Homo sapiens: one gene and its partners. The protein of the gene in region 1 interacts with the protein of each later gene in a pairwise test. Each region holds a gene or a part of one and is shown on either strand. Other genes may lie near its edges.

Region 1 (4,616 bases):
AGATGTGGCCAGAGCCCTGGGATGTTGCAGCCTCCCTGCCGAGAGCCTGGATGCAGAGGTCATGCCCCAAGTTAGATCCCCACCTTTAGAGCCTCCGAAAGAAAGTATGTGGTACAGGAAACTGAAAGTGTTTTCGGGAACTGCTTCCCCTAGCCCAGGCGAAGAGACCTTTGAAGACTGGCTAGAGCAGGTCACTGAGATAATGCCCATATGGCAAGTGTCTGAGGTGGAGAAGAGGCGGCGTTTGCTGGAGAGCTTACGTGGGCCTGCTCTGTCAATCATGCGGGTGCTCCAGGCCAACAATGACTCCATAACTGTGGAGCAGTGCCTTGACGCCCTAAAGCAGATCTTTGGGGATAAAGAGGACTTTAGAGCCTCTCAGTTTAGGTTTCTGCAGACCTCTCCGAAGATTGGAGAGAAAGTCTCCACTTTCCTGCTGCGCTTAGAGCCCCTGCTGCAGAAAGCCGTGCACAAGAGCCCCTTGTCAGTGCGCAGCACAGACATGATTCGTCTGAAACATCTCTTAGCTCGGGTCGCCATGACCCCCGCCCTCAGGGGCAAGCTGGAGCTCTTGGATCAGCGAGGGTGTCCTCCCAATTTTCTGGAGTTAATGAAGCTCATTCGAGATGAAGAAGAGTGGGAGAACACTGAGGCAGTGATGAAGAATAAGGAGAAGCCATCAGGGAGAGGCCGGGGGGCCTCCGGTAGACAGGCAAGAGCAGAAGCCAGTGTCTCTGCACCTCAGGCCACCGTGCAGGCAAGGTCTTTTAGCGACAGCAGCCCCCAGACCATACAGGGAGGCTTACCCCCATTAGTGAAACGCAGGCGGCTGTTAGGCAGTGAAAGCACTAGGGGAGAAGACCATGGCCAGGCCACGTATCCCAAGGCTGAAAACCAGACTCCAGGCAGGGAGGGGCCACAGGCTGCAGGAGAGGAGTTGGGAAACGAGGCAGGGGCTGGGGCCATGAGCCATCCCAAGCCCTGGGAAACATAGGCTCAGAAGACCGAAGCACTCCTTCCCCTGGCAGGCAGCAGGGACATTTGAACAAGGGGAAGGGGCAGCTTACACTAACAGGGAACTTGACTGGGGCAGAGGGACAGGGAAGCCAGGTCGAGATCAAGCCCCCTTACTTTCCACCAGCTGGAAGGGACTTCACCAACCAAGACCAAATAGCATCTGGTTCAGTGGGGGCCGGGCCCATAGCCCCTAACAGGTACAGGAGACACAAGCGGGGAACCACTACACTTAGCACATGGGGTGCCTGGGCTTCAGATGGGGACCCCAGCGAAGCAGGGGCTGAAGAAGGTGTGGCTGGGGGCTCTGGCCTGGTCCTCTGGACACCCCCAAATATCTACCCTGTGGACTTTGAGCTGAGCATGCCCACTGGCACCCAGGCCACGTGGGACCTGGAGGAGCCTGCCTGGGGCCTGCCTCTGCCAGAAGGAGCCAGGGCTGCTGAGGAAGAGCTGTGGGGCAGAAGTGAAGCCCCGCAGGGGAGGCCACAGGGTCCAGCCTGTCTTTAGGATCATCTACACTGCATGAGGGGAGCCCCAGGAAGGCAGCATTCATAAGCCCCTGCACCAGTGAGGAAGAGAAAGAGGAGGAGAATTAAGAAGAGGATGATCGGGAGGAGGAAGAGGAGAATAAGGAGGAGCAGGAGGAAGAGGGGGAGGAGAAGGAGGAAGAGGGGGAGGAGGAAGAGGGGAAGGAGGAGGAAGAAGTGTAAGAAGAGAAGAGAGGATGTGTTGGGGGTGGGTAGTTGTTTTTGGTTTGCGTCATCATCAGGCCCGGGCTCTGCTCACTGCTGTTCCGTGTCAAGAACTCCACCTCTGCTTTGCCGGTGTAGATCTCGGCCAGTGGCTGCTTGTTCTCTTGGGGATGTGTGTGTTTTTATCTGAGCAGCTCCTTTCCAGAGTACCCCAGCGCAGTTCCAGGAGACGGTGGGAAGGAGGCATGGCAGACGCTCACCTTGTGACTGTGACCTCGACTGCAGGAGGACCAACCAGACACGGGAAGGAGCAGGGCTGCCTGAGGCTCCCCAGGAAGCTTTGTGCTTTGGCGTTCCACCCCTGCTGTTACTCGTGACTCAGTTTCCTCAACTTGGTGGGGTGTTCCCTGCTATGTTTTCCAGCATCCTGTGACTGTCCTGTGCAGTCTATAGGGCAGGGCCCTGCCCCAGCGGGTGGGCTCAGGAGGGGGTTCCCTGAAGCGAGTACACATTGCCAGAGCCCACCATCCTGGCAAGAGGTGGATCCTGGGGCCCTATGGAAGGAGGGATGTGGTGGGGGGGGCCACACTGAGGGAGGGGCCGGGGACTTGTGACCTGTAGTGGCTGTTTGCAGTTTCTCTCTGTGTTAGATTCCCTTTTCTTCAGCAGTTTCAGTTCATGTTTCTCTTCAGTAAATTTTGTTCAGTGTTCCAGTGGTGTCTTGCCTCTGCTGTGTGAAACTGGGGTGGGAGGTGGTCTGCTGGGGATGGGGCCACAGTGGCCAGGCTGACATCGAGGTGTGTGTGGGGCAGGGTCTATGAGGGCCTGTGGGGTGCCTTGGGCTGCATGGAGCCTGGCAACAGGATGCTGGTGGTCATGAGCAGTGACTGGCTGGGTACCAAAGGCACTCCAGGTGTCCTCAGGAATAAGTGACTTGGACATTGAAGGCTGGGCAAGGGGCAGCAGGTGGGTCCCAGGCCCCTGATCCCTGGCAGCACTGTAGGGGTGTGGCTCAAGGCTTCCGGAAGGGTCAGAGAGGCCACGTGTGCAACCAAGGCCAGCAACCGAGGTCAGAGAAGAGCCCCAGGAGGGCCTGGACAGGCAGTCAGAGGCCCTGTGAAGAGCTGTGTGCAGGACTCGGGGTGGGGTAGGGGCTGGTGTGTGCCCATCCTCCCAGATCAGCCCGCAGGTGGCCAGCCTTGGCCTAGCCACTGAGGGATGTTTGGGGACAGTGTGTGTGTGATGGCCAAGGGGACAGAGTGTGGGCGAGAAAGGGATCCCAAGTGCTCATGTCTTGGGGAGGGGGAGAGGAAGGGCGGGGGAGCTGCACTTCATCCTGGGTCCTGTCCTGCTCCCTTCCCAGTGTACTGGGAGGCGCTCTACTCCTGTGTCCTGGGAGCAGGCAGTGGGCCATGAGCAGGAAGCCTAGATGGCCCTGGGGAGTGACCCCTTTCTGTCCTGCATCCCCGAGGCCCTCTGAGCCCTGGATGCTGCCTGAGGAGGGCTCCCTCAGGATGGACGGCGCTGCTAATCCAGACACCCCTCCTTCAGCACTGTGGCCAGAGGGGCAGTTCTTGGTGGGGGCCTGAGGATCCTGGAACCCGCCCTCCTGAGCCCTCCTGGGACTGGCTCTCTCTCCCAACAGGCCAGGGAGCTCGCCACAAATGGAGGGTAGTCCTCGATCAGCCATTTAACTAGCCCAGAGTCTGTGGGCGACAGAACTGGGACAAGTGATAGGCCCCTCCCTGCACATGTGTGGGGAGGGGACGGGATCATTGACTTGGACGTGGCGAGGGTCTCCCGGGGCTCACTCAGTCTGTGTCCACACACTTCCTCCGGCTGTTCTGGAGCACAGAGCCTCCGGCCATCCCCATGGCTCAGATGATAGCCAGGCTCCCCCAAAGCAGCCTCAGAGCCAATGCTGGGAATGGGTGGCTGCCCACCTGGGCTGAGGAATCCTGGATCTAGGCGACCTGTCTGCTTGAGCGGAGCTGCAGTCAGCAGGTCTGCAGGGCGGCAGGGGCCCTGGGAGACACTCGGCATACACAGGCCAGTGCAGGCATGGGAGGGGTAGTTTTGCGGGGCTGTCGGGGAGGGGCAGGGGGCGGCAGGTCTCTGGGGCTGGGCCTGCAGCCTCCCCGGCCTGAAGGTGCTTAACCGGTGTCTCAGGGACCCTTGTAGTGTGTCCCATCGGGGTGCCCTGCAGGCATGCCTGGGGCCCCCACTGTGCTCTGTTCTCCCTGCCTTCTTCAGGCTGGGCACAACCCCAGCATGTCCGTCCCTTGTGTCTCAGCAGGGCCAAGTCAACTGCTCACTTTCCAAGGGCCCCTCCAGATTTTGGGGACAGGGCAAGAGGAGAGGGCATAGAGCTTGGCTGACCTTGCCAGGGCCTGTCAGGGCTCCTTGGTTTTCCCTGTTCAGAGTGGACCTGTGTGTGCCGTGATTCCCAAGCAGGTGTGAGTGTGAGTGAGCGGGTGTGTTTGAGCGTGTGCGTGTGTGTGTCAGTGTGAGCATGTGCATGAGTTTCTGAGAATGTGTGTGAATCCAAGTGACAGAATGTGACTGCATCACTGAGCGTGTGTGAGTGGGAGGGTGTGGGGGAATGAGGCTGTGCCATTGAAGGTGAGCATGCATGTCGCTGAATGTGTGTGACACTGTGAGTGTGTCAGTGTGTGTCAGTGTGTGTGTGAGTTTGTGAGTCATTGTGCGTGCGTGCGCTGACTGCAAATGTGGGTGTGTCAATGAGCAGGCATGAATGCGTCATTCAATGTGTGTTTGTCACTCAATGTGTGTGCGCATGTGAGTGTGTCTGGAACATGAGTGTGTGAGTGAATGTGTGTGTGACTGTGTCAGTGGGCATGTGAGCACACAGGCTGGACAGTTGGGTTGTGAAACCCGGAAGGGATC
Region 2 (8,823 bases), on another chromosome or scaffold:
GCTAACACTTACTGAGGACTTACTTTAAGCTATGTACTATGCATAAAGTACATTATGTTATTTCATCTAAATGCCAACCTTATGAGGTAGACACTGTTAATAGAGCTGTTTTATAGTCCATTAAAGTTAGGCCTAGAGAGATGATTTTCCTGAAGTCATACTTCCAGGATGTGGCAGAAACAATGCAAACACAGGACTCTCTGAATCCAGAGGGCAGTGATCTTGGGGAGCAGGGAGAGGGGACAGGAAAAGGGATATTACTTAGAGATTCAAGAGGTAGAGTCAGAATCAGCATGAATTAGTTATTAATTAGATTGGGGGTGTCAAGGATGAGCTTCTGGTCTCTGGTTTGGTGCTGGAGGGGGTGGATGTCATGCTCTCATTCATGGATAGTAGCAATGCAGTGGACTTCATGGAGGGCCATGTTGGATGAGTATGGGGTTTAAGAAGCAGTGGTGAGATAGGGAAGAGTGGGAGCTCTCAGCAGGCAGGACAGTCTGAGCCAGGGCCTAGGGTGAGTCTCACATGGAAGACCCTGAGCGCGGCCAGAAGGAACAGAGGGTTACCGCTAGGGAAGGTGGGGCTGCTTGGGGAGTATAGAGCTATGGCATGGGGTGGGGGATCCCTGGTGCCCAGGAGAGTTGGGACTTGCCAGTAATGGAGCCCTCAGAATGCACGATGTGCAGATGTACCACTTCTGCCTGAACAAAGCAACATATGCTGTATAAGCTATGCTGCTATCCTGGGCAGGGACACCCCTGAGGAAGGACCATGGTGCGCGCAGTCAGCAGACTGTAGAGACAGGAGGGTTTCAAGCAAGATTTCGAGCCACAGAGGGAAATAGTGGGATTTTGGCACAGACTCTGTGCTTTAGGAAGGAGAAGTACTCTGGGGTCCCAGGAAAGAGGGAAAGCAGCGTCTCTGAGAAGTTGTGCATAGCCCCAGATGGGGTAATAATCCCTTAGTCACTTGTCTGGAGCCTCCTTGACACCAGCAACTGTGTCTCATCCATTGTACCCCCAGCGCCTAGCCCAATCCTGTTCTCTTGAATTCACACCTCACCAACCCCATGAACATTCAGAGCTGGGGCAATGAATGATGCCCAACACCACAGACCATGCATGTGGTAAGGTTAGCCAGGGTCACAGAAGGACCTAGGGCTTCACCAGATGACCTCTGCATGGGTGCAGACTTTCCAGGTCATTCCATGTTGCCCCATAACACACTAACTCTGCCATGACCAGGTGGAATCTATAACGCCCCAGGAGCAGAGGCAGCAACCAGGAGACCTGGTGGAGTAGAAATGAGGAACTGCTCCTAAGCTGGGGAGACCTGCTGCTGCTGTTGCTGGCTGATAAGAGGCCCATAGAGAAGAAGCATGACCCTCCCATCCTCTCAGGTTCTATTTCCAGAGGTACTTGTGCTCAGCTTCATTCTCCTACTCTTCCTCCCCCATGATGCCAAGTAAGAGCTCAACCCAGCTGTTAATGGTAAGACATTATTTCTATGCAATGTGGGTAATTCTGATTAGCTGGGCAATCTGACATACAGGAGTGTGAAGGCAGGATTCAGGGCCTCTCAGGGCAGAAGGCTCTGATTACTTTGTTGAGAATCATCCACTACAACAAGGGATTCAGGATGAGAGAGGAGGCAAAGTGGTGTTTCCATAGCTGGAAGGGAACTTTGACCTTGGGAACCATCGGAGGGAAACATGGGCTAAAGTGCAGGCAATGTGCATGATACCCAGGAGGAGCTAGCAATCCCTTGGGTCTGGTATGTATGGAGGGGGAGACTTGCTGGTCCAGCTCAGCACTGGTTTTGCTGGGATGCAGATTCAGTGTGAGAAGAAGCTGTGCCCTAGTTCACTTGAAGCCACACTTCTCCAGCCCTGTGTACAGGCTGCATTAGTGAGGATGAGCCAGGACTGCCCCAGCCAGAGCCTAATGGTAGACAGGTTTCTTAGTAGTAACCTCCCCATAAAGAAAACTCAATTCTGGAGTCTTCATAAATCATATGAAGGCAAAACACTGGCTGTGGAGGCAAAACACTGGCCCTGGTGCCTGGAAACCACTGGCTTTGCGATGCTGCCTCTGGAAACCTACCTCCACTCATCCTTCTCTCCATCTAGGGGTGGACCTGATCCTGTTTGTGGTCCCAGGTGGCATGGACCAAGACATGGTGGAGCTGGTGCCTTGTGTGCTTTAATCCTGCATGGTCATGGTATCTCAGCCTCAGCAGGTGTTACTGAAGTGATATTTACCACTATCTTCCATGTGAAGAGTTTTGGAGCATTGGAGAGTGGGAGAACTCCAAGAGTGATGTTCCCAAGTCTTAGAGTCTCAGGAGTAAGGTTTCCTTATGAGGATCCAGATCTCTGAAACCAATAACATACATGGCATTGGGTTAGGATAGCAGCATCTTTGTCACCTAATGACTGCTGGAAGTCGACCTCTCTGTGTGGTGCTGATACAGTACCTAGAAAAACAGCATCCCGTGGACACTTCAGAGTGAAGAGGAGAAGAGAGAAGGTCCCCAGGGGCTCACCAGGGCTGAGTCCAGGTAGTCACACTTCCACATCCCACCTCCCCAACCCGTCTACCATCAGAGAAGGCTGGTTGGTTCTTGTGTTTTTGTCTTGCTGTCAGAAAGAGCCAGGGTGAGCCCATGGAGGGAAATGTGAGGGATTTCGAAGGCAGGGTGTAGCCACGATTAACTGGGGGAGTGATAGTTGGTACGGAGCACCAGATGAAATGACTAAGGGCCCCTCTGGGTTAAGAGCAGGACATGGTTCCATCACTGTGATCCAGAACCTCCTATTCTTGGATCAAAATGTTTCCAGCATCCTGGGTTCTTGTAATCTCCCAGGATAGGAATCAAGAGAGATCACCAGACACAGCAGCATAGAGAAAGTTTATTTTAGCTTGTGCACAAGGAAGCTGGCACTGAAGAAGAAAAGAATGGGCTGCTCCTTGAGGGCAGTAGTGTGTGGGTTAGTTTTATAAAGGCTTTCTATGGGGAAGGGTTACATTGGGGCAGGTGTAGGAGAGTTTTTCTAGTGCTTGCACAGTGGCTCAACATGCTTCTTCATATATTATATGTAGCATTAGCATTTTAAATCACCACCCCAGGGGTGATTTTTAGCATTAAAATGAAGAAGGGGTAACTATAGGTTGGAGTTTAAATGTAACTGCACATTTGGGTCTCCAAGGAAGTCCCTAGACCCCCGAAATAGGAGCTTATGGTTATAGCAGTTATAGCTTCTTGGGTCTTCTGTTACTGATTGGCTGGGAGTTAGATAAGCAAGAGCCTGACTGAGGGGCTTTTTTTTTTTTTTTTTTTTTTGAGACAGAATCTCGCTCTATCCCCCAGGCTGGAGTGCAGTGGCATGATCTTGGCTCGCTGCAACGTTTGCCTTCCAGGTTCAAGCGATTCTCATGCCTCAGCCTCCCGAGTAGCTGGGATTACAGGCACCCACCACGACGCCCAGCTAATTTTTGTATTTTTAGTAGAGACGGGGTTTCACCATGTTGGCCAGGCTGGTCTTGAACTCCTGACCTCAGGTGATCTGCCCACCTCAGCCTCCTAAAGTGCTGAGATTACAGGTGTGAGCCACTGTGTGGGGCCGACTGAGGGGCTTTTATCATTTTCCTCCAGACCATCTTAACATAGGAACCTAGCTAGCCTGCCTGTCTCAAATCCTTCCTAAATGGGCCAGATGTAGAACTGTGTTGGCACCTCTGCTTTCCTCATCATTACTCCTAGCCTTTTCCTGTGCTTGCAGGACAAAACTTGGAGGGCACTGGGGCAGGCAGTGAGCAGAGCCTGGCTGGTTGTCCCCAGGAAGGAAGGGGGAGGTCCAGGCCATAAGGGCAAGGTGTCATCTCTGACCAGAGACAGAGTTCTTCTCTGAGGACGCAGGGCAGAGTTCTTCTTCCCGAGGCCATGGGTAACTTGGCCTCCACAAATAAAGGCTGAGGAAGAGGGATGAAACTGGAGGCTTACAGCAGGAATGTCCAGGGAGGGCAGAGGGAAGGGCAGGCAGTCAGTTCAGGACATCACAGACATTCATGGCCAGAGTGTAGAGAGGCTGAAGAAGGTGGGTTTTCTGGAAGACTGTCCCAACCTCTCACGGGCCAGCTGGGCATCCAGGCATCTTCTACCTTACAAGGTAGACCAGCAGAATAGGCACCATTTAGAGATTTAGAAATGCAGTTTTCCAGACCTCACTCTAGACTTTCTGACTCTACGTTTAACCAGAACCCCAAGGCGACGTGTGTGCAGGAAAGTTTGAGAAACCTTATTGAGAGGAGGAGTTCTGGCAGGGCTGGTGGGAGGACACCCCACTAACAGGCAGCATGCAGGGGCTGCCGTGGAGGTGACGTCACACCACATGGTGAGTTGGGGAAAGAGAGAGGCAATGAGCTCCATCTGGCAGTGCTGAGTTTGAGGGGGCTGCTGGAGGGGGCTGCTCAAGACAGCAGCTGCACCTCTGAGCCTCTGCCTCTGCATGGGGCACAGGTTAGAGCCAGAGACATGGATTTGGAGCCCTCAGAAAAGACGGGGACATAGAAGCTGTGAGACTGGATGAGATCACCTAGAGCAAGTGGAGAGTGGGAAGAGGGCCTAGAATGGAGGTTAAGGGGATGCCTGCATATAAAGAGCAGCCAAGGGGAGGAACTTGGCAGAGATTTCAGCAGTCAGTGGCCTAGGGGAAATCCCAGCTGAGCCGGGGGACACAGAAGGGTCAATAGGATTGAATGGCATGGAGCAGTCAGGAGAGCACCAGACAGGGTCCATGAATTTCCAAATTAGGCCATGAGAAAATGTTATATTAAAAGGGCAATCAAAAGTGGAGATAGGCCAGGCGCATTGGCTCACACCTGTAATCCCAACATTTTGGGAGACCAAGGCGGGAGGATTGCTTAAGCAGGAGTTTGAGACCAGCCTGGGCAACATAGTGAGACCGTGTCTCTACAAAAATTACAAAAATTAGCCAGGCGTGGTGGTGCATGCCTGTGATCCCATCTGCTCAGGAGGCTGAGGTGGGAGGATTGTTTGAGCCCAGAAGGTCAAGGCTGCAGTGAGCTGAGATTTCACCACTGTGCTCCAACCTGGGCAACAGAGCAAGACCCTGTCTCAAAAAAAAAAAAAAAAACAAAACAGTGGAGATAGTGGAAAGAAAACTTAATGCCTTTTTAAAAATATAGTTTGGGAAGTGGCTATTAAAAGGACAGTCTATCAGCAGAAGTGACAGTCTATCACTGCAGAAAGTTAAACAGAGCTGATAGGGGAAGCCGACGAACTTGTTGACTTCTGTTTTCTGTGTACAACTGTGGAACAAATAGGGAAGACAAACAGCTGGCTGCTAACTTTGATCACATAAATGGAAGTTAAGGAAAACTGGATCATAAAAGTGATGGATAAGGAAAAAACAGTGCTAAACCATATCTTAAAATATTTTGCTTATTTTTCTCAAAACATTATATATATATGTCATGTTAAAATAGTTTAATAATATTAGTTTTTTTAAAAAAAGACATTAGATTTACCACAATTTTTTAATGGGGGTAGGCATTAGGAACTGGATTGTGATGATGGCTGCACAATTTGGGGAATTTACTAAAAATCATTGAATTGTGCACTTAAAACATGAATTTTCTTCCTTTCGTTCTTTCTTCCTTTCTATCTTCTGACAGGGTCTTGCTCTGTCACCCAGGCTGGAGTGCAGTGGCAAGATAATAGCTCACTGCAGCCTCAATCTTCCAAGCTAAAGTGATCCTCCCACCTTAGCATCCCGAGTAGCTGGGACTGCAGGCACACACCACCACGCTGGGCTAGTTTTGTTTTTTGATTTTTAAATAGAGGTGAGGTTTCTTTTTGTTGCCCAGGCTGGTCTCGAACTCCTAAGCTCAAGTGGTCCTCCCACCTTTGCCTCCCAAAGTGCTTGGATAACGGGTGTCAGCCACTGTACCTGACCTGTAATATTTTTCTGTGCTTGGAAAGTCTTTTGTTGGTCATCTATGATACTTCTCTACAAAAATACAGATGTATAACTTGAGATGAAAGATTTTCTCTTGTTCTCCTGGGACCATACATCTCTGAATATTAAACTCTTTTTTTCTTTTGGATGAAGTTACCAATACAACTTTTAATCACATGTAAGCAAAATAACATAAACATATTACAAATTTTGGTAAATAATAATAATTATTATTGTTATTTTTGAGATGGAGTCTCGCTCTGTCGCCCAGGCTGGAGTGCAGTGGCGTGATCTTGGCTCACTGCAACCTCCGCCTCCCAGGTTCACGCCATTCTCCTGCCTCAGCCTCCCAAGTAGCTGGGACTACAGGCGCCCGCCACCACGCCCGGCTAATTTTTTGTATTTTTAGTAGAGATGGGGTTTCACCGTGTTAGCCAGGACGGTTTCGATCTCCTGACCTCATGATCTGCCCGCCTCGGCCTCCCAAAGTGTTGGGATTACAGGCGTGAGCCACCACGCCTGGCCAATAATTGTTAAATGAAAAATAAAATGGAAATGCATCTCTTAATGAGGTAGATGGAGCTTTTTTAAAAAAAGTTTATTTGTGTATCCATTGATGAAAATTACATATTTTAGACTGCAACAGGAATTAGGGTCAATTGTCTTTCCGCTTTTCATTTTGTTGATGTAAGAACAGAGCAACCTTGCTTAGCTACGTAATCAAACATTGATGGAAATGAAAGTGTTTTATTATAGCAATGTCACTCACATTTTTGAACTCTTTCTGAAATGTGTTTCAAAAAGTACATAGTGATCTATCATGAAAAATTATTTTTAATCATATATTAGCTGACAATTTGATTAGATCCTCCTTCAACTTTATTGAAAGCAAAGAACTGGAAACCACTTAGCTTGAAAACAAATTTTTTCTTATGCATTCATTAATGTCATTCACCCTCCACCATTGATAGCAATACTTCAAATTGTCCTTCCATTTAGTCCCCTGGAGGTGTTTTTTTTTTTTTTTTTTTTTAATTACCAAGCAATGAAATCTTACAGTGCAATGAAATATTCAGGATAAGTGAGAGGTATAGTTTTACTTTTGTAATAAAGAGAAAAAGGACTATTGTGAAAAAAGAATCTACATGAAGCCTCAAATGCTAGTTCCTTCCCAGGCAGAGCAGCTCTGGGAAAGATTAAATATAAAGTTGAGCATCTGGGAGCTGATCCTCCTGAAGCTATCTATACCATGTACCCCTTGGAAAGTCTTCGCATACAGATTCCATAGCCTGAAGAGTGATGGTGGAAATGCCACCCTTTGATGGAGTCTGGAGAGGGAAAGGGGAGAAAGAGAGAATAGCAGCTAGCAGAGAAAGCTGGGTGGAAAGTTTATTTTTAGTCTGGGACAATGAACTAGTCATCTATTGTGGCATAACAAATTATTTCAAAACTTGACAGCTTAAAACAACAAATATTTATTCTCTTGAATCGTTTCTGAGGGTCAAGAACCTGAGAACAGTTCGTCTGGGTGATTGTGGCTCAGAGTCTCTCATGAGGCCTGGTGACCACTTTCCGTTGGTTCTCCTAATACGTCTTATGCCCGCAGCAATGCTGCCAACTTCTTCAGCTCACCTGCCAGCCAACCTTGGTTCACCTGTGTTTCCATATGTTTTTCTTGCTTTTACAGCCACTGGGGACCAGCTCTGGCCAGGACAATTCCGTTTGCCATGATGTGGGTTGAAATCACAACTTCTCCCGGGCGCAGTGGCTCACGCCTCTAATCCCAGCACTTTGGGAGGCCAAGGTGGGTGGATCACAAAGTCAGGAGTTTGAGACCAGCCTGGACAACATGGTGAAACCCCGTCTCTACTAAAAAATACAAAAATTAGCTGGATGTGGTTGCGGATGCCTGTAATCCCAGCTACTTGGGAGGCTGAGTCAGGAGAATCACTTGAAACCAGAAGGCGGTGGTTGAGTGAGCAGAGATCGCGCCACTGCACTCCAGCCTGGGCAACAAGCACAAAACTCCATCTCAAAAAAAAAAAAAAAAAAAGAAAAGAAAAAGAAAAGGAAATCAAAACTTCTTCTATGACATTTGAACTCCCTGTGAAGTTTATCCTGTGTTACAGTTTTTCTCTCAGTCTTAGAGTATCCTTTAGTGTCCTCTTCATAATTACTCTCCTATCATAACTCACCTATCATCTAATACTTTTTTTTTTTTTGAGATGGAGTCTCGCTCCATCACCCAGGCTGAGGTGAAGGAGTGCAATCTCAGCTCACTACAACCTCCGTCTTCTGGGCTCAAGAGACCCTCCTACCTCAGCCTCCTGAGTAGCTGGGATTACAGGCGTGTGCCACCACGCCTGGCTAATTTTTTTGTATTTTTGGTAGAGATGGGTTTTCACCATATTGCCCAGGCTGGTCTCAAACTCCTGAGCTCAAATGATCTGCCCACCTTAGCCTCCTAAAGTGCTGGGTTTACAGGCGTGAGCCACTGTACCTGGCCTAATACTCCTTTAGAGTGAAATGTCTTCCTCTGATATAGCCATAAATGCCTATATTTAGTTCTGATAGACTTGTAGATGATAATCTTCTTCTAACCTCTGATTTATTATCCTACTAGAAAGTTAAGAATTGGAATGTTCATTCTCAGGTTCTGGGGAGGATTTTCTTTGGGGGCGTGTTATATTATTTTGTAGGAAATGCCATTTTGTTATATGGAAAAAAAAATCATAGCTTGAGCTCCTCCAACAAAGTGTTGTAATTTAGAAATTCTTAGGAAACTTCTCATAATGAATCAATTAAAAATTAATAACAATATAGCCAACTCTATGTTGTCTACA
Region 3 (8,836 bases), on another chromosome or scaffold:
AGTATAATAATTTAAAACATGTAATTTTTATGTTCATTTTGGTAAGGTTGTTTACATGTTTAACTGGCAATTTTTTTTATTATATGAATCATCTCATCTTTTGTCCACTCTTCTTTTGAGTTGTTCTATTTCTTGTTGATTTGTAAGCACTCTTTATAAATTAATGTCATGAATACTGTATCATTACACTGCATTTTTTTTAGTTCTTTGTTTTTTAACCTCATTTAGGATGTTTTCACCATATATGTTTCAAAATTTTTATGTAATCCAACCTGTCTTTTTTTTTGTTTTTTGGGTTTCATGCCATGCTTCCCTACCCTTCTGTCACTCTGCTCCCCTTCAAGAAATAAAGGCAGAGCTCTCTCACCCAAGGGAATTGTCAGGACCCTGAATCTCAGATGTATCTTCTAAACTAAGTTACAAGGTTAGTGCACTCTCCTTGGTGGTATTGGGGCAGGGATTCTTAATTTAGGGGGCTGTGAAGAGATTTTGGGGGTCTGGGAACTTACTCTTTATTTTTACTAGCTGTTAATCAAAATGTATCATTCCTTCCAATTATGAATGTATGCCACAAACCACAGTAGTATTAGTAGAACCTGTGACTTTGTCATTAAATATTAGTTTTTTCCTATCACATTAAAGTTATTACGGATATCTTGAAATAATTGTTTACACTCTTACTACTTTTAGGTCAGATGCTAGATCTTGCCATTTAATGCATTAATAAACAAAAATGCTATTATTTTACACATTTTCTTATGTTTTCATAGCTATATTTTCAATATTTTGATGTCCTCTGTAATTCTATGTTTTGCTTGGTGCATTTAAAACCATTCTTAGGCTGGGCGTGGTGGCTCACACCTGTAATCTCAGCACTTTGGGAGGCTGAGGTGGGCGGATCACAAGGTCAAGAGATCGAGACCATCCTAACCAACATGGTGAAACCCCGTCTCTACTAAAAATACAAAAATTAGCTGGGTGTGGTGGCAGGCGCCTGTAGTCCCAGCTACTTGGGAGGCTGAGGCAGGAGAATCGCTTGAACCCAGGAGGTGGAGGTTGCAGTGAGCCGAGATCATGCCACTGCACTCCAGCCTGGAGACAGAGCAAGACTCCGTCTCAAAAAATAAATAAATAAATAAAAAATAAAAATAAAAACCATTCTGAGGAAAGGGTGTGGGCTTCATCAAACTGCCAAAGAGGAATCCCTCCTCCAAAAGGCAAAAGCCCAGGCAGGAGGCAGCTGGGGCAGCTCCTTCTAGATCCCACCCGCCCATCACTGCCAGCCAATGAGGGGCCATATCACAGCCACGCCTTAGGCCAGGCTTATCCAGCTCTGCATTTTCATTTTTGCAGAAGGGATGTTTTCCTGAGAAAGGAGGTCTTTTCGGTAAGTGCTCAGACTTCCTTCAAAGTGAACTTTTCAGGGATTGGGCTAGAATGTACGATCTGCCTAAGAAAGTTTCCTCTCAGATCCTGCCAGTTCTAGACATGTCAGAGTGCAGGCCTTTCTTTTGTTGCTAGATTCTTAGATTTTTCAGAAACCAGCAAACCAGATTTTATGTAAAATCCTCCTCTGACTGTATGCCTGCCTATCTATACATCAACGCAGAAAACCCAACAATACACTTTTGACCTAAAATCACCTCAGGGCTCATTAGTGGCCGGCATCCCAGCGCAGGGAGACCTGTCCCATACACCTCAGATACACTTCCCTTCAGGAGAATGGGATCCAGAGCAGGTTTCTAAGGTGTGATGCCAGCATTTGGCAGCAGAGGGCACTCCTATTACAGGCTGTCTAGGCTGTGTCCTATTTCCTGAGGTGTAGGAGGGAGACCGTCTGTGAAAGGGGCTGAGCTGGGTCAGAGGGCGGGTGACTAGTACTGGGCTGAGGAGGGAGTGAGGGGCCATTGGGATATTGAAAATCCATCCTCCTGTCCTCCCACCCAGCAGTTATGGGCCAGCTGCTCGGGGTGACAGGAATGTCTCCTGGACTAGCCAGCTAGGGCCAGTCTCCCTTGGTCTATGCACCTGTCCCCACGGCTGATGCCAGAGCTTGTGTGTGCTACAGTAGAGGTGGGCAGCAGAAATGACAGCTTTCCAGTGCCAAGTGATCTAGTCCTCTAGAGGTTGTTGGTATCCTTGGGACTAAGAAAATAACTTGGCACATGATAGGCATGCAGTAACTCCTCCCTGTGTTGAGTGTTGAACTAAGGCCCAGTAAGGGAAGAGTGTGAGGGTTCCATGCATGAGGTCTTAGTCAGCTCAAGATTCAGGATTTGGTTTTTGGCTAAGGTAGATCTGGGTGCATGTCAAGTCTACTTTCTTACACCAGCCCTGCAAAGGAGGGCACCCTATTTACACATGGGGAAATTGAGGCTGGTGGAAATAACATGCACAAAGGTATCCTCAGAACTACTTTCTGCAAATTTCAGGGATACAGTGGGAAGAGAGCTGAGAAGCAAATGTCCTTGGCGATTTCACAGTGTCAAGTCAGGAGTGCACACCACTGACTTGTAGGCCCAGGGCAGAGCCTACATGTAATTTAGCTAATTTGATTCTAACAACTCTTCTAGGTAGAGTTTACTTTTCCCATTTTACAGAGGAGAAAAATGAAAGGTCAGAGAGGCTACGTGACTTTCCCAGGGTTATGTAGCTTGGGAATGTGGAATGTAGATGTGTCTTTGACTCCCAAGGCCTGGACTCTTCTCTTTGCTCTTGTGGGTGGCAGAAAATCCTGGGGTGAAAAAAGTGCCCTGACTAGGAGAAGACGGCAGGAACAAGATCCCCCATCCGAATACATGGTGCACAGATATCCCAACTTAGTCCTGGTCCCTGCTCCATCCACTATTTTTTTTTAATGTTTAAAAAATTGTGATAAACTGTACATAATGTAAAATTTGCCATCGTAACCATTTTCAAGTGTACAATTCAGTGGCATTAAGTACATTCACATTATTGTGCAACCATCACTACCATTTATCTCTGGAACTTTTTCATCATTCCCAAACTGAGAATCTGTACTCATGAATCAATAACTACTCATTCCCCCTCCTCCAGCCACTGGTAACCACTATTCTACTTTCTGTCTCTGTGAATGGACTATTCTAGGTACAAGTGGAATCATACAATATTTCCAGGTATAAGTGGAATAATACAATATTTGTCCTTTTGTGTCCAGCTTATTTCATTTAGCATAATGCTTTTGCCTTGATCTGAATGTTTGTGTCCCTGCAAAATGGGGTTGAAATCCTGACCCCCAAGGTGACGGTATTGGGAGGTGGGGCCTTTGGGGGGTGGTTAGGTCATGAAGGTAGAGTCCTCATAATTGGGACTAGTGCCCTTATGAAAGAAACCCCAGAGAGCTAGCCAGCCCCCTTCTACTAAGTGAGGGTGCAGTGAGAAGATGACAGCCTATCAACCAGGAAACAGGCCCTCACCAGGCACCGAATCTGCCAATGTCTTGATTTTGGACTTCCCAGCCTCCAGAACTGTAAGAAAAAAACTTCTATTGTTTATATGCTACCCACTCAATGGTATTTTGTTATAGCAGCCTGAATAGACTAAGACAGTTTTCAAGGTTCATTCATGTGTCAGAATTTCCTTCCCTTTTAAAGTTAATATTACATTGTATGGATATACCACATTTTGCTTATCCATTAATCTGTCGATAGACATTTGAATTGTTTCCACTTTTTGGCTATTGTGAATAATGCTATTATGAACATGAGTATACAAATATCTGTTTGAATCCCTGCTTTCAGTTCTTTGGGGTATATACCCAGAAATGGAATTGTTGGATCTTTTGGCAATTCTTGTTTAATTTTTTGAGGAACTACCATTCTGTATCCACAGTAATGGTACCATTTTACATTCCCACCAGCAATGCACAGGAGTTCCAGTTTCCCTGCAAGTCCTTGACAACGCTTGTTCCCATACACATTTGCTTTGGCTGCCTCAAAATGTAGAGCTTGGCAGATTGAGATTGTGGTGGGACGAAAGCCTTTGAAATGGAAAAAAGAGAAAGAGGGAGGGAGAAGAGTTGCGGAGTGGAGAGAGAGAGAGTGTGTGTGAAAAGGAGCTTTTTTCCCACTCTTCCCTGACCCTCATGGGGGCTGCAGCGACTCCTAGAACCTTCAAGCAGCGAGACAGAGGTTCCCTCCACCAGGCGCAGAGCTCTCCTTACACCTGGCCTCCTATTCCCAGCAACTTTAAGGAGATATTTTTAAGTGGCCATGGTTTTATCAAATGCCTATTAAGTTTTTGCCACAAAAGGATTTTATTTAAAATAAAAATAGGGGTAGGTATTTGACTGATGCCCCTTGTGAGTGCTCTAGAGAAGAGGAATGAATACTGACATGTCCTATCTTCCCAGATGCAGAATTGTAAAACAAACATAACTGCTTTTCACATGTGAAAGAAAACTGGCTTAGAACATACTAGCGTTTTCTTTGCCATGAAGGAGTTCACCTTCAGTGACTAAGCCAGAACTACTAGAGTTGCCGGGCCTAGGGACAGGAGACATTGCCAGTGCTTAGCCAGGCTGGCCAGGACTAACCATCTCTGCAAGGAGTCCACAAGAAGCCTCAGGGCAGCCTTTCCCTGCTCCTATCAATTTGAGTTGAGCAACAAACATTTTGACCAAATATCAGCTCTATGGCACAACTCACAGTTACGGTGCCCACAAAACGGAATCTCAGCAAAGCAACTACTACTATGGGAAGAGATCAGGGACTAATATCAGGAGAAAAAATAAGTTTTTCAGTCCTGGGTTTCCAAGTTGGCATCCCCAGGGCAAACCAGCAGGTTGGGAGGGTAGGGGGTGGTGGGTGGGGGCTGCGGAGGGAAGGTGGCTGCTGTCTGTCTGATCAGACCTGGGGCACACCCAAAGAACTCTCCTAGCTTGGGATCCGGTCAGGAAGAAACCAGGACGGTCCCTTTAGGAGGGTGGGCAGGGCTATCTGCCCGGGGGGTGCGGCCGCCCCTGCACAGCAGGCTATCGATTGTACCGGAGGCAGGGTGTGGGGAAACCGGGGCAAGTCCAGCCTCTCAGCAAGGCCAGGAAGCCATTCACTTGGATCCTGGATTTTACTAACGGATTAAACGTGGCATTCCCGCCTTCCCCCATCCGTTACAGACCTAAAAATAGCTCGTCCGAGAGGGGCCGGGAGAGGCTCCACCTCTTCTTGAGGTGGGGCGGGGCGGCTGTAGTAGGAGCTGGAGGCACCAGAGACCCCAAGCCACGAGCTGACCGACGCACCGAGGAGCTCTCTGTCCGCGGTCCCGCAGGTTGGCGGCACTGGAGTGGGCCGGGCAGGCTCTGCCTCCGCCGCAGAGAGCGCCCGGACTGCGTGGGGCTGGGGAAGCATCCCGGGAACGGCGGGCGGTGAGCATTCCGGGAACCATCTCTGGGCTGTCTGGGGCGGTGGAGCAAGTCTGGAGGCGGGACGTGGGGCGAGTATGGGAGCCGCCACCTCGAGACGTCTTCCCGCCGTCCCCGGCTCCAGGAGACCCCACGGTGAGCGGGCCGCGCGGGAAAACTATGCCAGGAATTCGTCCCGGGAGCGGGGCGGGTGGGTAGCTTGGCTGCAGTCCGAGGGATCAGCGATTCGGGAGGTTAAACATTAGCGGGGGCGAACTCCCTGCCGGGGTGCAGCGGGGCGCGGGAGGAGCCGGCTGCGTGCGTCCGCGCTGCCCAGGGCGCGCCCTTCTGGCCCGGCGCGGCCCTGCAGCCCGGCCCCCTCGGCCTGCTCCGAACTGCGGCGCCCAGGGAGGGAAGGACCCGTGCGCGGGGGACGAATGACGGGATGCCCCAAGACTCGGCTTCACTGGGAAGACGGCCTTGGGTTTTTACTTTTTGAAAAAAGAAAAGTGATTTGGGAGGGCTTGATGATCTGAGTGCCGTAGGTAAAGGAGGATTCTTTTAGTAATGAGGTGATTTAAAAGCAATCGCATTGGCATCTTTCGTTCCCCTTCTTCCTTTCCTGGGCTGGACCTCAGCAGGAGGCAGACGTGGTATTTTCATCCTGAGGTGGCTGCGCATAAAGTCCACCGAAGACCTGCTCAGTGCAGGACAGGGATCAGGAGGCAGGGCAGAGGAGGGGGTCCGAGGCTGCCTGGGCAGGGCCTAGTTCACGGAGCACTTCCTAGGGGCCCAGGGCCTAGGCTGCCCCTGCCTGGTCTCCTGGAATTCGATTTCTAACAGGACTTTGGAGAGAGGCCTGGGAAGTATGGGGTGTTCTGACTTGGCTTCTCACACCCTCATCTGCAGATAGGGTGGGTGATCTCTCCCTTCTCAGTTGCAGCCCCTAGCACCTCTCCTCCCCCTCCCGGATGTGAGGACTGGCCAGTGAGAACAATCCTGCTTAGGGAAGGCTGATCCTCCAGTCTAGTGGCTGATAAGGGGCCTTCTGACTGTCTTGGTCAGACACCTCCCTCATCTGGGAATATTTTTTGATACTATCTAACTTGATAAAATACCTCATGAAGTTGTATGCTTCAGGTTGGGAACAGAAACCTGAGTTCATGTGGGCACCATAACTGTGGGTTGTGCCATGGAGCTGATATTTGGTCAAAGGTTTTTTGCTCAACTCAAATTGATAGGAGCAGGGAAAGGCTGCCCTGAGGCTTCTTGTGGACTCCTTGCAGAGATGGTTAGTCCTGGCCAGCCTGGCTAAGCACTGGCAATGTCTCCTGTCCCTAGGCCTGGCAGCTCTAGTAGTTCTGGCTTAGTCACTGAAGGTGAACTCCTTCATGGCAAAGAAAACGCTAGTATGTTCTAAGCCAGTTTTCTTTTACATGTGAAAAGCAATTATGTTTGTTTGTTTTACAATTCTGCATCTGGGAAGATAGGACATGTCAGTATTCATTCCTCTTCTCTAAAACACTCCCAAGAGACATCAGTCAAATACCTACCCCTATTTTTATTTTAAATAAAATCCGTTTGTGGCAAAAACTTAATAGGCTTTTGATAAAACCATGGCCACTTAAAAATATCTCCTTAAAGTTGCTGGGAATAGGAGGCCAGGTGTAAGGAGAGCGCTGTGCCCGGTTGAGGGGACCTTTGTCTCGCTGCTTGAAGGTTCTAGGAGTCGCTGCAGCCCCCATGAGGGTCAGGGAAGAGTGGAAAAGGAGAACACCATGGAATCTGAGAATAAGGCTAAGCTCTGCAGTGGCAGTACTTCAGGAGAGCTCCCAGGTCCCTGTCATCTCTGTTGAGGTCTCTGGAGCTCCCTTGCATACTGTGTGTGCATAGCCTGTTTGCAAACTGTGTGAAGGTTTCCTTGGCAGCCACAACAATTAGCATTAATGACACGCCTGAGCTCCCCCAGTGGGCACTGCTGAAGTTAGCTTGGGAGCCAGGGCAGGTTTGTAAATGATTGCCTGGCAGCCACCTTGGAAACTTGGCTCCCTCAAGTTCTCCTCTTGACTGCATTCTTGAGGAAGCAGAAGAGACAGTAAAGTGGTGATGTTGTTGTTGTTGTCTAGCTGTCAGTTTATGTTAAAAAATAAGGTGTTTGGCCAATTTTGAGGGAGTTATTTTTGACAGATTATTGGTGGGCCGGTTTTAGAAGAACCATAAAGTCTCCAGGGATTGTTTCACAGTGGGATGGCTGTCTTGTGAGGTGGTGAACAACTTGTCACTGGGAGTGTGCAAAGCAAGGGTGGTAGATGGGTTTTCTATATTCTAGATGGGTGTGGGATTGTCCCAGGCAGAAACCAACTCTTAACAATGAAGCAAGTTTGAATGTTAGCACAAATATTCTTTTGGGTCCCTTATTCATAATATTGGTCTAGGAATGGGAAGTTTCCCAAAACCCTGTCAATATATCTAAAGGTGATTAAACAGCTTCAGTTTTCCTAATGACAGTGAGTCATTTCTTCTCTCTCTTTTTTTTTGAGACGAAGTCTCACTCTGTCGCCCAGGCTGGAGTGCAATGGTGCGATCTCGGCTCACTGCAACCTCTGCTTCCCAGGTTGAAGTGATTCTCCTGCCTCAGCCTCCCGAGTAGCTGGGACTACAGGCATGAGCCACCACGCCCAGCTAATTTTTGTATTTTTAGTAGAGACAGGATTTCGCCATGTTGGCCAGGCTGATTTTGAACTCCTGACCTCAGGCGATCTGCCCTCCTTGGCCTCCCAAAGTGCTGGGATTACAGGCGAGAGCCACTGCTCCTGGTTGACAGTGAGTCATTTCTTCCTTGTGTTTTTATTCCCAGATGTGGGAAAAGCAGTCTGCTCACAATTCGTCTGAAAAAAGCACGATGTCCTTGCCCCTGGGGTGTATGGTTTCCAGGTAACATGCAACACTCTCATTTGGCTTTTTGTCCGCCTATCCTAATCAGGACGCAAGCTGTGGAGCTGAGTCGGGTTCAGACAAGCCCTGCTGAAATACAGGGAGAATTTAGAATCCCCAACACTAACCCTGTGGTGATTTGCTGTAAACTCTGTCAGCGCTTGCACTTTGGTCAAGAAAACTCAGGTATTGTAATTTCCATAATGGAAAATAATTTGTATATCATTATAATTATCATAATTATTAAGAGTTTGGCATAATTCAAAAGCTCTGGAGTCAGATAGAACTTGGTTTGAATCTTGGCTTCATTATTTAGTAGCTGAGTGAGCAGGGATCTTAGCTTCTCTGAGCCTCAGTTTCTACATCTGTGAGATGAGACGAACCATAGCCATCTACAAGGCTATATGAGTTTAGAATTACTACTTTTAAAGGCAGGCACAGTGCCTGACATATAGATGTTTGATAAATATTACCTATTATACTATCATCATATCATCATAATCATCTTCAAGTTCCACAGTTCTGCTCCATCTTTTTTTTTTT
Region 4 (8,235 bases), on another chromosome or scaffold:
ATTTATTTGCCTACTAAATGTTTGTTCTCATCTATCGATAAAGTGCTTAAGAAGTTGGCCTGTTTGTAATTTCTTCATTTTCTATCTATCTTGATTTATATACCTTCACCTTTTTAAATTTTTTGCCTGGTAGCAGTATTGGTCTAGGATTTTCACTCTTTATTAGGCTTCTTGATTGAAGATACCAGTTCCTTTAGTAATTTCAAAATGCCGGCCATAGCCAGTCTATAATCCAATTCAAAGGCATGAGTGGAAAAAGTGGGTATGAAACAATGAAGTAAATGGAGAAGTGGGGGAAAATCAAGCAATAATCACTTAGACTAAAACAGAACAATAAGAATTATACAGAAAGGTTATATTCTAGAGGCCAAGTATTGACTTGCACAGAATTGTGTAAATGATTGCCATTCACTTCCCTTATGAACTTAAGCCACTCAATTTCTGCATACTTCAGCCTCCTCATTGGTTGGATCCAGTCAGTGTTTTTCATAGTACATACAGTCATACCGGTGGATTGTCAAATCAATTTAGCGGGTCACTACCAGCATTTTTTTTTTTTTTTTTTTTTTGAGATTGGAGTCTCGCTCCTTCACCCAGGCTGGAGTGCAATGGTACAATCTCGTCTCACTGCAACCTCCACCTCCCAGGTTCAAGCAATTCTCCTGCCTCAGCCTCCCAAGTAGCTGGGATTATAGGTGTGCACCACCATGCCCTGCTAATTTTTTGTATTTTAGTAGAGATGGGGTTTCACTGTATTGCCCAGGCTGGTCACGAACTCCTGAGCTCAGGCAATCTGCCCGCCTCAGTGTCCCAAAGTGCTGGGATTACAGGCGTGAGCCACCATGCCTGGCCAGCATTTTTTAAATGATATAAAATAGTATTGAAAATATCAGAATGTGGCCAGGTGCGATGGCTCACGCCTGTAAAATCTTAACACTTTAGGAGGCCGAGGCGGGCAGATTGCCTGAGCTCAGGAGTTCAAGACCACCCTGGGCGACATGGTGAAATCCCATCTCTACTAAAAATACAAAAATTAGCCGGGCATGGTGGTATGTGCCTGTAATCCCGGGTACTCGGGAGGCTAAGGCCAGAGGATTGCTTGAACCAGGGAGGCGGAGGTTGCAGTAAGCTGAGATTGTGCCACTGCACTCTAGCCTGAGCAGCAGAGTGAGGCTCCATCAGCAAAAAAAAAAAAAAAAAAAAAGATCAGAGTGCATCACACATAATTAAGGTAGCTTATGTTTTGTGAAACTTTGTGAGTACGGGTTGTCATTTTTAATGTAGCCCTAAATGTTTTTTAGGGAAGAAAAAGTTGGCTTTTAATAAGTATTCAGTGAGAATGAATTTGAAGGGTGTGGAGAAAAGTGGAATAGCCAATTTAAAATAGGAATACTCCCAAGTCCCCTGTTATGGATGTGCCAATCTATTGTTTATCCCAGAAATATTGTTTCATGTGTTTTACAGATAACAAGTCTCATTTTAATCAATACTGTTGCATTTCCTGGTCTATAGAATACAATTTTCAAACACTAGCCAACTTACCTTAGAGAAATACTGGTTTTCTAATGTGGGCAAATAAATACATTCAGTATGAATCCCTTAACAAAATGACCTCATTATGCTACCTCTTGGTAAAATCTAACCAAGCATGAGTCTTATGATTAAGAAAGAAATTTGCTCTGTAGGTGCTTCAGACAGTTTTACAACCAATAAGAATGTGAGATTTGTCGGAGAAAAACTATCTGCATGTCTCCAATCTGAAGAGAGCAAAGATCTGTTATTTGACAAACCCTATTTTTCCGAGCATCAACAGTCAGTGGCACCATGAAAATTAAAAACCTGATAATACCACCAATGTAGTACTCTTTAAAAACATGTCATCTTACTCAGCAATCAACCTGATTGAATATTTTAAAATGAATAAGTGGATAAATATCTTACCTGAAAGATAGCTTCATTAAATAAACTAACTCCTGAGAGGATTTCTTTGGCCTTTAATATCCTATTTAATAGATTTCTTATAACCATATCAGCAAAGCCACTCTGCTCTGGACAATGGTCAGAAGGTAGGAAGAAGTGTTATAGGGTAATGAGCAATAATAAGGCCACCAAATATAATCCCATTGTAATGGGATTCTACCCACTTGTAGAAGTTTATTCACCACTACAAATTACTAAAGTTAACCTAAACAATTAAAGAAAGAAATCTTAGTCTTTAAGAACAGAGGATTGTAAAGTGAGCCAGACCTTCCAATCAGCTAAAATAATGTAAAATAATGTACTTTTCAACCTGACTTGGCTTAATGTAGTTAAGTAAATTTTAGGATAGGTTCTAAAAAACCTTGAGAGGCATTTTGTTGTTGTTGTTGTTGTTGTTAGTTTGCCTTAAAGTTAAATGTACATTGACCTTTGGTATTTCTTAGAAAAACCTGTTACTGAACCTAGTACAGAATGTGAATCATTTCATGCCTGAAATACAAGATTGATGTTTACAGGGCAATTGTCCAGAATCTTGCTGAATTGGAAAGTATTTCACTCTTCATCACTGTAGATCCGTTTAACTTTACAAATGTGTTATTTAAAACATAAACCATTTTGGTGCACAGGAAACCCACTTAAAATTAAATTTTAAAAAGCTCTCGAGAAGTCTGTGGAACATTTATGGTTTTATAACTTACAATTTCTAGCAAAAGTATCTTTAATATCTTACAAAATATTTTCAGAGATAGCTTATCCAAAATATGTAATACATGTGAGAGAATAGCACTGTTGAAATGCTTGAACACATAAAAAGCATTATTGCCTTCATTTTCCCTGAAATGAACCAAGCTACCAATTTAAAGCTGGGAAAGTCAGTACCAGAGTTAAAAACAAGTTACTTTAAAGATATCTGCTTTTACTTTAATCTAAAAAATAATTGATTTTTTAAAAAACTTATTCTATTTTATGTATATAACTTCTCCTTTATAAGCTTAGAAAAATTTATATCAGTATTACATTCTTGATTCTCTCAAGGTATGATTTAAATGGTGGACACTTAAGCCAAAATTTCAAACAGGTTCTTTTTTCTTTGTTCTTTTACAGAATGGCTCTCAAGTCGAAAGAGGGCTGTGCCTTTGGTGTTTGGGTATGATATATTTGCCTGTGATTTCTCATTCTCAGAGCATTCCCATAAATAATGCCACAAAGTAGAGTTTGATTTTTTTTTTTTTGAGACGGAGTTTCGCTCTTGTTGCCCAAGCTGGAGTGCAATGGCGCGATCTCAGCTCACTGCAACCTCCGCCTCCCAGGTTCAAGCGATTCTTCTGCCTCAGCCTCCCAAGTAGCTGGGATTACAGGCATGCGTCACCACACCCGGCTGTTTTTTTTTTTCGCATTTTTAATAGAAACGGGGTTTCACCGTGTTAGCCAGGCTGGTCTCGAACTCCTGACCTTAGGTGAACTGCCCGCCTCAGCCTCCCAAAGTGCTGGGATTACAGGTGTGAGCCACCGCGCCCTGCCTAGAGTTTGATTCTCTTAAACCGTTCTACTAAAATACTATCAGTTTAAACTACCATCTACAGAAATAAAAAACATAAACCACTAAAAGATTAAAGCATTTAGGAGTTTATATGCAAAGAAGTCTTGCAAGGGAGTACAAGCTTTAGGAGGACAGGCTTATCAAATTAAAAAATGAAAAAACCTACAAAATTACCAAAGTCACCAAGTTTAGTTATTCTTTTCATGGTGGAAAACAGTTTCCTCAGATAATCATCATATCAGAGGTCATCATGTATCCTTAGATATCAGCATTGCCAAGACCAGGGATATAGTTATTAGTAATTTACAGGAAAGGCTCAAGGTTTCATTTACATGGGAAATGAGAACTAGACAGTGTGGTGACTGTTTTTGTTGTTAACCTTACCTCAGTGTTTTATCTCGGGTGGTCCCCAAGACCACCTTCAGGATCAGTGATTCACTGGAGGGACTCACAGAACTCAGAAAAGCTGTTAAGTTATGGTTATGGTATATTATAGCAAAAGAATATATATTAAAATCAGCAGCTGAAAAAAGGCACATAGGGCAAAGTCTGGGGGACACCAGGCACAAGCTTCCAGTTGTCCTTCACCTGTGAAGTCATGTAGACAGACCATAATTCTCTCAGCAGACAGACCATAATTCTCTCAGCAACAATGTGTGACAACATTCTTGGAGAATTGCTAACCAGGGAAGCTCCACCAAGCCTTGGTGTCCAGATTTTTTCTTGAGGGTTGGTCACGTAGGCATAGCATGACTGATAGCCCATGTGGCTGACCTTCAGTTTTCAGCCCCTCCAAAGATGGAGCTGATACTACATGGCCTAAGGACTTCACCATTAATCACATTGTTAGCTTAGACTACCTGGTATGGCCTAAGGCCCCCAAGTAAATTAAAACATTCATATCAGGCAGGATAGTCCAAGGACTTAGAGGTTATCTTGAATCTGGACACAGGACAAACATTTCTTTGGAATGTGAAAAGTTTACACAATCAAGACTTGCTATGTTGATCCTTTACTGCGGTATTGTTTTTTGTTTTCTGACCCAAAAGTGATGTGCATTGCTTACCTATCATGGCCTCTGGTTAAGGTGTCAGTCTTGCCTCCAAATTTCCTCCTAAAGCATGGAATTGGCCATAAATTTGCTTAGTGATTTTCTGATTTAGTATCATTAGTTTGATGACTAGTTTTATTATGTGAGTGTGATAAAAGGTTACGCTTAGTATACAAAGACCTTCTTATAAGTCTAGTTAATAAAACTAGGGCCATGTGTTACTACAACATAGGAGTTAACTTTGTCTGGAGGCTTTTTCAAGCCCAAGAGGTTGTCATTTCTTTATGTGTAAGATACTGCCCACATACTATACTGAAGTCAGGAACCAAGAACCGGTCAATTTACCTCAGCCAAGTTGCTTGGACTGCTTTGCTTAATAATGGGTTTGCCATATCTACTTTAATGAGATGTGTGGCATGGTGATGGTTACAAAAGTGATTTGTTAATTATTGCCTGGTAGGAAGGAGAACATGTTTTTTTTGAACCTATGCAAATAGCCACATGTCTGTGAAAAGTAAAGGGATACTTTTGTGTAATATTTAACCATGTATACCATTGTTTGTGTACTTTTTAATTGTGTCATTTTCTACAGTATTATTTTTGCATTTTCCTGACACTGTATTACTTACAAGTTATATTAATAATTTTTATTAATTTTTTTCCTGAATCCTAAAAGGTCAGTTGGAACATGAGACCATTTAAAGAATATTATTTCCTTCCAGTTTATTCAAGGGTGGCCTATTGAGAGTTTGAGATAAAGAAGAAAGGAATCTTTCCTTTCCTTCCCCCTCAGCCCGCCCCCTACCTTTCTTTTTTTTTTTTTTTTCTTTTCAGGGTCTTGTTCTGTCACCCAGGCTGGAGTGGAGTGAATGCAATCAAAGCTCACTGCAACCTCAAACTCTTGGGCTTAAGCAGTCCTCCTGCCTCTGCCTCCCAAGTAGCTGGGACTACAGGTGCATGCCACCACACCTGGCTAATTAAAAAAAAAAAAAAATTTTTTTTTTTGAGGAGACGCGGTCTCACTTTGCTGCCCAGGCTGGTCTCAAACTCTGGGCTCAAGCAATCCTTCCACCTCAGCCTCCCAAAGCTCTGGGATTACAGGCATGAGCCACTGTGCCCGGCAGAATTTTTCTGTGTCCATTAGAAATAGAAATCAGTCACATGCTATGATTTCAATATGTCACTCAAAAGCCATGTGTTGGGGCTGAACGTAGTGGCTCACGCCTATAATCCCAGCACTTTGGGAGGCAAAGGAAGGTGGATCACTTGAGGTCAGGAGTTTGAGACCAGCCTCCAACATGGTGAAACCCCGTCTCTACTAAAAAAAAAAAAAAAATTAGCTGGGTGTGGTGGCATGCACCTGTAGTCTCAGCTACTCATCAGGCTGAGGCAGGAGAATCGCTTGAACCCAGGAGACAGAGGGTGCAGTGAGCCGAGATCATGCCATTGCACTCCAGCCTGAGCCATAGAGTGAGTCTTGGTCTCAAAAAAAAAAAAAAACCTTGTGTTGGAAACCATCTCCAATGAAGCAGTGTTAGGAGATAGGGCCTAATGGATATAAATTACAGTGTCTAAGATGGATACTTTACTCTTTTCTTTTGAGAAGGGAGAGAGTATGTTATGCACTGAGAACTTTTCAGATTTCTTGCAGAGGTCATAATGTTCCAGACAAGCTGGCAGCAATCATTCCCATCCCATCACAGATCCAGGCTTATTTGTAGAATGGTTACACAAACCAAGCAAAACCTTCTGTAAAGTTTCTACCCTTTGCTCTAAAGTTACATAAAAACAATTTCCAAGTTTGTTCACTGTGTATATTTTGTTCTTTTTCATGGTAGATTTGTCTGTTGGAGTTAGATATCCCTAAATAGTGTGTTCAAATGATGTTTTTTTCTGACTGTTCAATCTCCAGCATATTTCTGAGGGAGAAAGGACATTGACTTTGGAGAAAGAAAGCTGTGTAATTACAAATGGACTATTACAAAGAACTATGCCTTCCTTTTTGAGGAGAAAAAAGATGGTTTTTAAAAATTAATACGCAGGCTGGGCGTGGTAGCTCACGCCTGTAATCCAAGTCCTTTGGGAGGCTGAGGTGGGAGGATGGCTTGAGCTCAGGAGTTTGAGACCAGCTTTGGCAACATAGTGAGACCTCATCTCTACAAAAAAAATTTAAAAATTAGCCAGGCATAGTGATGCATGCCTGTAGTTTCAGCTACTTGGGAGGCTGAGATGGGAGGATTGCTTGAGCCCCAGAGATGGAGGCCGTGTGAACCATGATCATGCCACTGCACTCCAACCTGGGAGACAGAGCAAGACCCTATCTCAAAAAATAATAGCAATACACAGAACTACCAGCCTTAGTTTATAACATTAGCCACAGATGGATCAAATGTAATAAAAGTACAAAAAGCGTGAGTCATTGGTTAATGGTAGCAGCTCCAGATCTCCAAGGGCTTCTCTGCATTCCAGTGGCCACAAAAATATTTTTCTTAATTGATTTGAACTCATAGTGGCACAAAAAAATGAAAAACAAGTTTCGTCAATGGTCAGAAGATGAGAAAGAAAGTAAATCAGTGATGTAGGGAGTAATATGAGCAACTTTCCAACCTACTAATGCAACCTATCAATTTGACCAAACTCATGTCTTAAGACCCAGATGCAAAGAAAAGATGTATCTTAGATGACAGAAGATAACAGAATCCTCAAGACAAAAACAAAGTACAATCAGATGTCCTGTCATTGTTGCCTCACAAAGAACGGATCGACCATTAAAATGTGTATTTTCAACATTGCTGCCACCAAAGGAGAAATAAGTGGCTGTTTACAAATCAGAACCAGTGTCAAACGCAGACTTGGCCAGGAAGCAAAAAACATATGAAGAGCCAGAAAAAGAACTTGAATCAACTAGATGAAGACTTTATTGCCTCAAGACTGGAAAATGTATACCTCGAACAGCCCTTGAGTTGCTCTTCATGGACAATGTGGTGGACTTTACCCTGGTTGATGCATACACAAAATCTTAGAGGAATCTACACAATTGTCAAAGAAATATAGACAAAGGATTTAGGGGGGAAAGTTTACTTTCAAGGAAAGTTTGCAAGCAACTCCCAAGTTTTAAAAGAACTGGCTCATCAAATAAAAAAATACAAAAAAAAAAAAAGGAAAACCCACAAAATTACCAGTATTACCAAGTTTGTAGTTGTCCAATCATGGTAGAAAAGACAGCGATTTTCTCACATGATTGTCATAGCCACAAAGATCATCACAGATTTTCATCTATTATCATTGCAAAAGTTGGCAATAAAATTGCTTTTATTAAAGGAATTAGTAAATTATAAACAAAACTTAAGGATTATTTTATTTTGGGAAAATGAATGACAGTGACCCTGTTTTTGTTTGCTTATTTCTCTCAGGGTGCAAGATATTTTCTGACTACAATGTACATGTTGATAATGCTCTGATAACAGCAGAGCAGTGTGTACATTTTGCTTTCACACATGCTTCTTTTGATCTTTGGTAATTTTTTAAAAAAATGCTTCCATGAACAGATAATGAGGTGGTTTATTATTATTTGAGGTAAAAGAGACAATAATATGGAGCGGTGGGAGCCAAAGTTTAAGAAAGTTTCTTTGGGGCCGGTCGTAGTGGCTTATGCCTGTAATCC

What was found.
Region 2: the proteins of PNMA5 (region 1) and FSD2 interact in binary tests that used the Homo sapiens proteins (3 or more experiments, as listed by UniProt).
Region 3: the proteins of PNMA5 (region 1) and DZIP1L interact in binary tests that used the Homo sapiens proteins (3 or more experiments, as listed by UniProt).
Region 4: the proteins of PNMA5 (region 1) and CEP57L1 interact in binary tests that used the Homo sapiens proteins (3 or more experiments, as listed by UniProt).

The regions. Positions count from the first base shown.
Region 1 is NC_000023.11:152,986,630-152,991,245, reverse strand, and holds the end of PNMA5 (paraneoplastic antigen-like protein 5), read left to right. Parts: coding exon 1-994; 3' UTR 995-2,422; downstream 2,423-4,616.
Region 2 is NC_000015.10:82,795,211-82,804,033, reverse strand, and holds part of FSD2 (fibronectin type III and SPRY domain-containing protein 2), read left to right. Parts: intron 1-1,395; exon of another isoform or gene 1,396-1,490; intron 1,491-7,667; exon of another isoform or gene 7,668-7,784; intron 7,785-8,823.
Region 3 is NC_000003.12:138,112,007-138,120,842, reverse strand, and holds the start of DZIP1L (cilium assembly protein DZIP1L), read left to right. Parts: upstream 1-5,234; 5' UTR 5,235-5,515; intron 5,516-7,362; exon of another isoform or gene 7,363-7,454; intron 7,455-8,342; exon of another isoform or gene 8,343-8,479; intron 8,480-8,836. UniProt on the Homo sapiens protein: Involved in primary cilium formation. Probably acts as a transition zone protein required for localization of PKD1/PC1 and PKD2/PC2 to the ciliary membrane.
Region 4 is NC_000006.12:109,168,044-109,176,278, forward strand, and holds the end of CEP57L1 (centrosomal protein CEP57L1), read left to right. Parts: 3' UTR 1-6,375; downstream 6,376-8,235. UniProt on the Homo sapiens protein: Centrosomal protein which may be required for microtubule attachment to centrosomes.